Linked DNA regions of Homo sapiens: region 1 is linked to region 2. Evidence: fine-mapped expression QTL. A gene starts in region 2. The other region holds a variant in brackets. All regions are shown on one strand. Distances are between the middles of the regions. Region 1 overlaps PLEKHA7 (pleckstrin homology domain containing A7). Region 2 holds the start of PLEKHA7 (pleckstrin homology domain containing A7).

Region 1 (4,384 bases), 51 kb after region 2:
CTCACTTCCCCCAGGAGTAGGAGAACCCAAAGGTGAGTTGGCAATAGAGAAGTGTCAGGCACTAAGGGGATGAGGGTGGTGGGTTTTGTGAGTTATTTCCCCCAGATATCTTTCTCATTGCCATTGACACAATACATTAAAATTCAGAGGAAAAAACTACAACAAAGGAAGAATTGGTCTAAGATAGGGGTCTTCAAACCTTTTTTTTTCTTTTTGAGACAGTCTCGTGCTGTCATCCAGGCTAGAGCGCAGTGGTGTGATCTTGGCTCACTGTAACCTCTGCCTCCCAGGTTCAAGTGATTCTTGTGTCTCAGCTTCCCAAGTAGCTGGGACTATAGGCACGCGCTACCACACCTGACTTATGTTTTTGGGTTTTTTTTTGTATATTTTGTAGAGACGGGGTTTCGCCATGTTGGCCAGGCTGGTCTCAAACTCCTGACCTCAAGTGATTTGCCTGCCTCGGCCACCCAAAGTGCTGGGATTACAGGCATGAGCCACTGTATCTGGCCCAAACCTTTTTTTTTTTTTTTTAAATCATGTATATCCCATTAATAAATGAGCATTTGCCCCAACACATGTATGCTCATTTATAAATTATATACATACCTGCTGTGCTAATGAAAACACACACAATTGTAAAAGGATGGCATAAAAATAAACCTGAATAGGTGTTCTACTGTTTTCTTCTAGAACTCCGTGGGTCATCTTGAGCACCTCAGGATTGAGTGCTGTGCACTTTGGAGACCCCTGGTGTCCCCCAGTATCTAAGGAATGCTCTATTACTGCAGCGCAGTGCCCTGTAAGAGAGCGCACAGCTGGCTGGACCTCCAATTTCAGGTGCTCTGATTTTCAGAAGCAGGAAAGGCCCTGCCCAGCCAGCCCTCATGCTTTTTGTCTGGAGTTTTACCAAACTGAAGGAATCCCAGAGTGAAACACTCCTAGTTGCTTCTCTGGTTGCAGTCCTTTGCTGTTACCCCAAGGCCCCTCAGGAAGTTCCAAGAGTGTGCAGACATCCTGGGGTATGAGGGAAAGGCTGTTTCCTAGGCTTGGGTACAGCTCAAGGATTGGTGAGGATGTGGAGAAATTGGAACTCTTGTGTGTTGTGCATTGCTGGTGGGAAAGTAAAATAGTGCAGCTGCCCTGCTTTGGTGGTTCCTCAAAAATCTAAATAGCATTACCCTGTGATCCAGCCATTTCATGTCTAGGTATATACCCAAAGGAATTGAAAGCAGGAGCTCAAACAGATATTTGTACACTTAGGTGCATTGCAGCATTATTCATGGTAGCCAACAGGTGAAAAGAACTCAAGTTTCCATCAACAGATGAATGGATCAACAAAATGTGATATATACATATAATTGAATATTACTGAGCCCTGAAGAGGAAGGAAATTTTGACACATGCCACAACACAGAGGAACTTCAAAGACATCATGCTGAGTAAAATAAGCCAATTACCAAAGGACAAATTCTATGATTCCACTTTTATGAGATACCTAGAATAGCCAAATACATAGAAACAGAAAGTAGATTAGAGGTTTCTAGGGCCTGAGGGAAGGGAGAAATCGGGGGTTGTTGATAACTAAGAGTGCTTCTGTTTGAGGTAGTAACAAAGTTTTAGGAACATAGTGGCGTTGGTTGCACAACATTGCGAATATAATAAAGTAAGAATAAGACCTTAAACATAAAAGCAATGAGAGGTGGCTGGGGGCAGGGTTGGAGAAAC[A/T]GGTAGTTAATTCTTTTGTCCAAATGCAGTGCACCTACTGATCAGATGCCAGGGTGTCCCTGTCCTTTTGGATACCTGCTGCCAGATTAGGGCTACTCGAATGGGACACTTGTGGCCACACCCTGGTCATTCTGACTGGCTGTACAAATAGCTCTCCTGGCTCCCCAGGGGACATGTTCATCAAGATTTAGGCCACAAAGTAGGGCCGTTTGTTCCCCCTCTTGCCCCTCTCCCCAGTCAGCTGACGACAGCTCCAGTGTTGCAGCCCAGCACCCCAGGATGGATGACACACCTCCCTGGTGCTCCATTGTCAGGGCTCTCTGATTTGCAGAAACAGGTAATAGTTTCTGTCTATGGTTTGGAATCATGAAGTAGGGCAAGACAAGTTTCTTTGGAGTTAAATTTAGGGCTTAGAATCCAGGGGGTGGCTGAGTAAAGCTGTATTTAACTCCTACTCCACCCTCAAAAAAGAAAAAAAAAAGTCCTAAATTAAGCAAGGTACAAGGAGCCTGCAGCTACCTCAACCAAATTGGAACACATACCTCTAAAAATAAAAGATGCTGAAGTCTAGAAAATACCAAATATGGTTATAGGTCAGGCACTTGCTTCTCTGCTTTTCTAATGTCACCATCCCTGTCCCAGTCCTGGAGCTGCACAGAAGTGGCATGGCCCTCCTCTAGGAGGACTGCACTGTGTACAAGGCCTTGTCTTTCCGTGATACATCCTGGGTCAAGGAGTGGAAGGCCACCTCATCTACAGAAAAGGAGGCTGAATCCAGAGGGTTGCAGTGGCTGCCTTGCTCCTCGTCACTCTGATTGTCTTGCAGTGGGAGGAACAAGTATGCATTTGCTTCTCTTGTATCTTTAACTCAGAGCTCCACTCAGTGCCATCTAGTTCCCAAGGCACCAGTAGCCAGGCCCCATATCTTGAGCACTGTGATTTTCTTTTTGTTGTTGTTGTTGTTGCTTCTGGGAGATGTGGGTACATGAGACATTCTTAGAAACACAAGTTCAGGGGAGGCTGCCAAAGGACCACATCAAGGTGCTTGTGGGCCAGGTGCAGTGGCTCATGCCTGTAATCCCAGCACTTTCAGAGGCTGAGGTGGGTGGATCACTTGAGGTCAGGAGTTCAAGACCAGCCTGGCCAACATGGTGAAACCACATCTCTACTAAAAATATAAAAATTAGCTGGGCATGGTGGTATGCACCTGTAGTCCCAGCCACTCAGGAGGCTGAGGCAGGAGAATCGCTTGAACCCAGGAGATACAGGTTGCAGTGAGCTGAGATCATACTGCTACACTCCAGCCTGGGCAATGGTATGAGACTGTATCCAAAAATAAGGTGCTTGTGGCTACAGGCAGAACTTGAGTTCTCAGGGAGCGAAGACTTAAGGTGGTTTTGGGTCGTGAGTGTTGCACAGTGGAGATAATAACCACGGTGGAAAGATATTGGGCACTTACTGCTCATTGACTGGTCGCCAAGAGTCTTTTTACACAAGTGATCTCACAACCACCCCATCAGGTGGACACTGTGATAATGCCCATTCAGAGTGAGAAAACATAGGCTAATTAGCCCCCTCATGGCCACACAGCCAGCGAGAGGCAAAGATGGGATTGGAATCCAGGCAGTCTGTCTCTAGCACTTTGCCACCATGTACATCAGTCATTTCTGCCAAAGCCACAGGGCTGCCTCCTCATCTGAAGCACAGGGCACTGTTTTAGGAAAAAGAATCGATTAAAGGTTGACTTGCTTCCCCCCATTTCCTCCCTTCTGAAGTGGGAGTGGGATCAGCTTGATTTTGCAACGTAGGCTCCTGCTTTATACCTGGTGTGTTGTGGTCAGGCCCCACAGGACATATTCGTCATGCACTTACTATGTGCCAGACCCTTCCATAGGTGTTTTACTCATGTTATCTCACAGCAGCCAATGAGGCAGGTGGTACTGATCCTAATTTACAGGTGAGAAAACTGAAGCACGGAGAAGTGAAAGACTTGCCTAAGTTAAATCACGAATTAATGGCATAACCTGAATTTCATCTCAGGACCATCTGACTCAAAAGTCCATGGCCTTCTCACCCCCTCTCTGGAAGATGCCATGGGTCTGCTGTGACCTTCCACACACCGGGCCCTGCCAGAATCCTGTCTCTCACTTTGATGATGCCAGGGTGTGTCTGAGGACCAAGGTTGAAACAACTCTGTCCCCTTCTGGGGATGATGCTGCCCAGGGGAGAATAACAGCTCAGGATGTCACCCTCCAGGCACAGCCAGGGGTGGGTGCAGGGTTGGAGGGCCTCTTTTCTGGGCCACTTCTCCGGTTGCCTGTAGCCCGTAATTGTAAACTCTCTGGAGCTCTTGGCTGCCTGGCTGGAAGCTGAGGAAGGCTCATAGCCTTTGAGAGGCCAGGGCTGGTGTGAGAAGCAGGTACTTTTCCCATCTTTGAGTCTTACTCTCCGATGAGCTGAGCATAGCCTGGCGTTAGGACCACCTCAAGGCGCTTGGGCGGCCTTTCCACAGCCCTGCCTGGCTGAGTCGCCAAGATTCTGTCCTTTCTTCTGGAGCCTTGGTCATCCTAGTGAGTGGCAGAGAAACCAGCTGGGACTGGGGATGGGGACAGGGTGGTTTGGGGACCTCACTGAGGAAACTTCGCTGAATGACCCGATT
Region 2 (4,384 bases):
ACACCGCTTTCCTATTTTCATTTGCTCAACAACCTCCTCAGAGGCAGGAGGTTCCTTCAGACAGGTGTCCCCCGTCCTCTGCAACCAGTTACCTCTTCTAACTCATAAATGCCTCCTTCCCCAACACCACTGTCTGTTCCCAAGGAAGGGCCCCTTTATGGTCTCATCAACATCTCACAGCCCTCCCAAAATTATGTGCATGCTCTCCCATCCCTCCCCTCTGGAGTGCTCTTTTCCCAGTCAAACCTAACCAGTCCTTCAGGGTCCAGCCTAATTCCACCTGTTTGGGCACCTTTCTGAATAACTAGTGCTCACATTGCATACAGTCTCACTTTCAGGCGCGCCTCCTCCCATCAATCAGAGCCTATGTCCCGAGAAGGCTGGGCCTGACAACAGCTGGAGCCCAGCTGCTGCTCTGTCTTTGCTCAGTGTGTGTGTGTGTGTGTGTGTGTGTGTGTGGCCGGGAGTCTGAGTGTGGAGTATGTTTCATTCACTCATCCTGCAGTTTTTTTTTTTAGACTGAGTCTCGCTGTTGCACAGGTTGCAGGGCAGCGGCGCGATCTCGGCTCACTGCAACCTCTGCCTCCCTGGTTCAAGCGATTTTCCCGCCTCAGCCTCCTGAGTAGCTGGGATTACAGGCGCCCGCCACCACGCCCGGCTAGCTTTTGTATTTTTTTGGTAGAGACGGGGTTTCACCATGTTGGCCAGGCTGGAATAGAACTCCTGACCTCAAGTGATTCACCCGCCTCGGCCTCCAAGAGTGCTGGGATTACAGGCCTGAGCCACCGTGCCCCACCCCATCCTACAGTTATTGAATGCGTAATGCATACATGAGTCAGGTGCTGTTCCAGGCATTGGAGACCAGGCAGTGTATGAGGTAGATCAAAGCCCCTTCTCTCATCCAGCTGACATGTTGGAACTAATATACAACAAACAAGACAAACACAAATATCAATTAAATGTAAACAAGTAATGAAATAGCGAGGGAAGGAGGGGAAGGATTTTCTTTGCAGAGGGCTCAGGGAGGGCTCCCCGAGGAGATAAGATAGGAGTAAAGACCCGAATATGAGAGGGTGCCGCCACTGCAAAGAGCTTTGCAGGGCCCCCTAGAGGCCCCGCCTGGCCACCGCTCTTCCAGAGATGGACGTGCTGCCGAGCCCTCAAAACCCCTTTTTTCTGTTACTTGACAGAAACTGAAGGCAAGAGCTTGCGATCCCTGCAACCTCAGTGGTGTGTGGCGGTAACCCTGCTCCCTCCTGTTTCACATCCCAGCTGAAAACTTGGGAAAATGAAATCGCGCTCGGCCTGCCGTTGATAGAGCACCTACTACATGCCATGGTCCGGTTAAGCACTTTATGCGATTGTTACTTCATTTAATCTACACAACAATCCCGTGTGGACTCGATTAACCTTACAGGGGAAGAGAAGGAGGCTGGGAATATGGCAGGAACCTGAGTGTTAACTTGGTTCACACACAAGCGGAGTTCCCGGGTCGGGAAGTTCTGTGGTGCGGGTCGGCTGGGGTTTACTGAGCGTTCGGGCGCTCGCCGTTTTCGGAGTTGGTCGGGTCCAACCGCGCGCCCCGAAGCTGCCCAGGCGCGCCCGCCAGCGGCCCCCGCCAGCGGCCCCCCGCGCCGCCCGGGTCTCCCGGCCTCGGGGGCAAAGGGGAGCGCCGGTGCCAGCAGGCTGGGGGCGGGGAAGGCTCGGGGACAAAGGCCGCGGGCACTGCGCTGGGTTGGCCGGAGCGGCTGCGAACTCCGGGCGCCAGGACCCGGCCGGGCGGTCGCTCCCTCAGGAGCCCGCGCCTGGATGGAGCGCCTCGCGGCGCCGCCGGGCCACGCGCAGGCCGAGCCCCCGCCACCGCCCCCGCCTCCGCCCCTGCCCGCGCCCCCGCCCCCTCCCCCCCACCCCGCGGCGGCTCCGCGCTCGGCGAACATGGCGGCGGCGACGGTCGGGCGGGACACTTTACCTGAGCATTGGTCCTACGGGGTGTGCCGGGATGGCCGCGTCTTCTTCATCAAGTGCGGCGCGAGGACCCGGGGACGCGGGGACGCGGGTGGGGGCGCGGGGGCGGGGGCCGGGCGGGCACCCGGCGGGCTGTGGCGGCGCTAACAGGTGCACCTCTCTGCCCGCAGTGACCAGCTCCGCTGCACGACCTGGCTGCATCCGCGCACCGGGGAGCCCGTCAACTCGGGCCACATGATCCGCTCAGGTGGGCGCCGGGCCGGCGGGTGGGGGGCGCGCGCAGCGGCGGCCCAAGTTTGACCCGACTTTTCTGGCGTTTCCGCAGACCTGCCCCGCGGCTGGGAGGAGGGCTTCACGGAGGAGGGCGCCAGCTACTTCATCGAGTGAGTGAGTGGGGCCGCCGCGCTCGCACCTGTGCCGCGGGGGGGGGGTCCCTCCCCGTTCCCGCCGGGCGCCCCGCCCTTCCTCTGCTCCCGCCGGCCCGGGCTCGTTGGCGCGCGCTGCGCCGCGGCCACACTCAACGTTTTGTGTGCCCAAGTTGTTTGGCGGCCTCCGAGAGGAAGGCGGTGGGGGCCGCACCTACGCTGGGGACCTGGGCCGGGGGGGAAGAGGCCGCAGACTCTGCGCCCTGGACCTTGCAATCCGGCTGGATTCGGGTGCTGGTGTGCGGGCTGGGCACGCCTCCCCTCTAGGGTCTGGGGCTGCGCCCCGCCGGGAGAGGCGAGTGCCGGGACCTGGATGGGCTCGGGTGGGAGGAGTAGAACGAGAAGTTCTGTCCTGGTGTGGGCCTGCGGGGTTGGAGTGGGGAGAGGGAGAGACTAGGGGAATCTCGCTTAGGAGGACGCCCCCTCTCCCGCCGCAGGCTCTGGGATGGTCTTGGAGAGTCGGAACCTCGCCCCCGGCCTCCATCCACTGCGCGGGCCTGCGGGGAGGGAGGGGGTGGGGAAGGGAACTGGTCAACCAATGACTTTCCTCGAGCGCTCCGCGTCTCTTCGGCCGGAGCTGAACCGGGGGATTGCTGGTGCTTCCGTTAGTCCACGGGCGACTTTTCCGCAAAAGCCCCGGAGTGTTGGCGCACCAGCCAGGTTACCCTGGGTCTGTAGGATCAGTCCATGTCAGATTGGGGCGCAGTAAGTGAAGGCGCGGGTCAGGCTCCTATGCCAGTACAGGCTTTGCTTTCCCACTCCGGCGGGAGTCTGTGTTGCAGCGTGTTTCCCTCTGCCTGCTGAGCTCCGGGAGGCCAGACACTGCCTTTGACCCCTTGCCCCAGTGCCGGACAGCAAGTAGGCACTCGGTAAATGTTTGTTCACTGAATGAATCAGCTCGCCAAAGGTCTGGACGGTGGTCTGACTAGTACTGACTGGGTGTACCTCGGCGACTGTGAGTCAGAACTACTACTGTTAGGAATAAAGCAGCCTATTTCAAGAAAACCCCGGAACCTCCTTTTCTGGTTTGGGTTCTTGCATAATAGTTGAAAATACTGATGGGTGAGATTTACAGACCTAAGGACTAGGGCCTTGCTGCGGTTCTATTGCCCTGCCTCATATGTGTGTATGTGAAGTTGGGGAGTTGGCTGGGGCCATCAGAGTCTTGCTGTCAGTGGGCCTCTCTGGCTCATAACTGCATCAGTTGATGTTATTACAATTTTCCTGTGTGCCACACGTTCACACGTTGTTCTAGGCATTGGGAACAAAAAACAGAAAAGTTCTAGGTGCTCATGGAGCTTGCAATCTAATAGGAGAGGGAAGGGAGTAGAAAATAAGTAAAAAACACAAATAATAATATCAGATCGTGGTTACTACTGTGCAGAAAGTTAAAATAAGGTGATGTGACATGGAGTGACTGGGTGGCTTGGTTGTACTGGGAGATCGGGATGGTGTTTCTGAATAGGCAACATTTAAAGTAAAATTTGAATGACAAGAAGGAGACATCATGTGATGATGAGTTGGCAAAGCATTTCGGGAAGAGCGAACAGCCAGGGCAAGGGCTTAAGGCAGAAAAGAGCTTGGAGTTTAAGGAGCAGGAAGGCTGGAATGTGGTGCACAAGGGAGAAAGTGGCATGAGGAGAGGTCACAGGTAGGAGAAAGGTAAATGCCGCAAAGCTTTGTGAGCCGGGGTGAGGAATTTTCATACTTTATTCTAAGCCCAGTGAAACGTCATTGGAGGGTTTTAAGCAGGGAAATGGCATGATTTGGTGTGTGTTTTTAGAACGATCACTGTGAGGAGATTGGATTGTAGGTGGCCACTGCAGGGGGAGGCAGGAGAGCAGCTGAGGCTGTTGCCCTCTTCCAGGCAGGAGTTAGAAGTGGCTTGCCTGAGGGTGGTAGCACAGTAGACAGGGAGTAGTGGTCACATTCAGGCTGTGTTTAGGAAATAGGCTCTTCACACCTTCATGATGGACTGAATAGTCTGTGGGAGA

The links. PIP is the estimated chance that this variant, and not a neighbour inherited with it, causes the effect. A credible set is the group of variants that fine-mapping cannot tell apart.
Region 1: its variant is the best candidate, but not a certain one, in a credible set for the expression of PLEKHA7 in blood mononuclear cells (TOPMed, PIP 0.54).

The regions. Positions count from the first base shown.
Region 1 is chr11:16,961,152-16,965,535 of GRCh38, reverse strand. All of the region lies in intron 3 of PLEKHA7 (pleckstrin homology domain containing A7), which reads left to right. Among named protein-coding and RNA genes, the nearest start is that of SNORD147, 37 kb to the right of the region's middle. The variant A/T (reference allele first, on the strand shown) is at 1,726.
Region 2 is chr11:17,011,953-17,016,336 of GRCh38, reverse strand. It overlaps PLEKHA7 (pleckstrin homology domain containing A7), which reads left to right and starts at 1,923. Exons shown (of 27, transcript NM_001329630.2): 1 at 1,923-2,021; 2 at 2,136-2,212; 3 at 2,291-2,348. The coding sequence starts at 1,936. RefSeq lists a silencer at 3,221-3,515 and an enhancer at 3,400-4,161.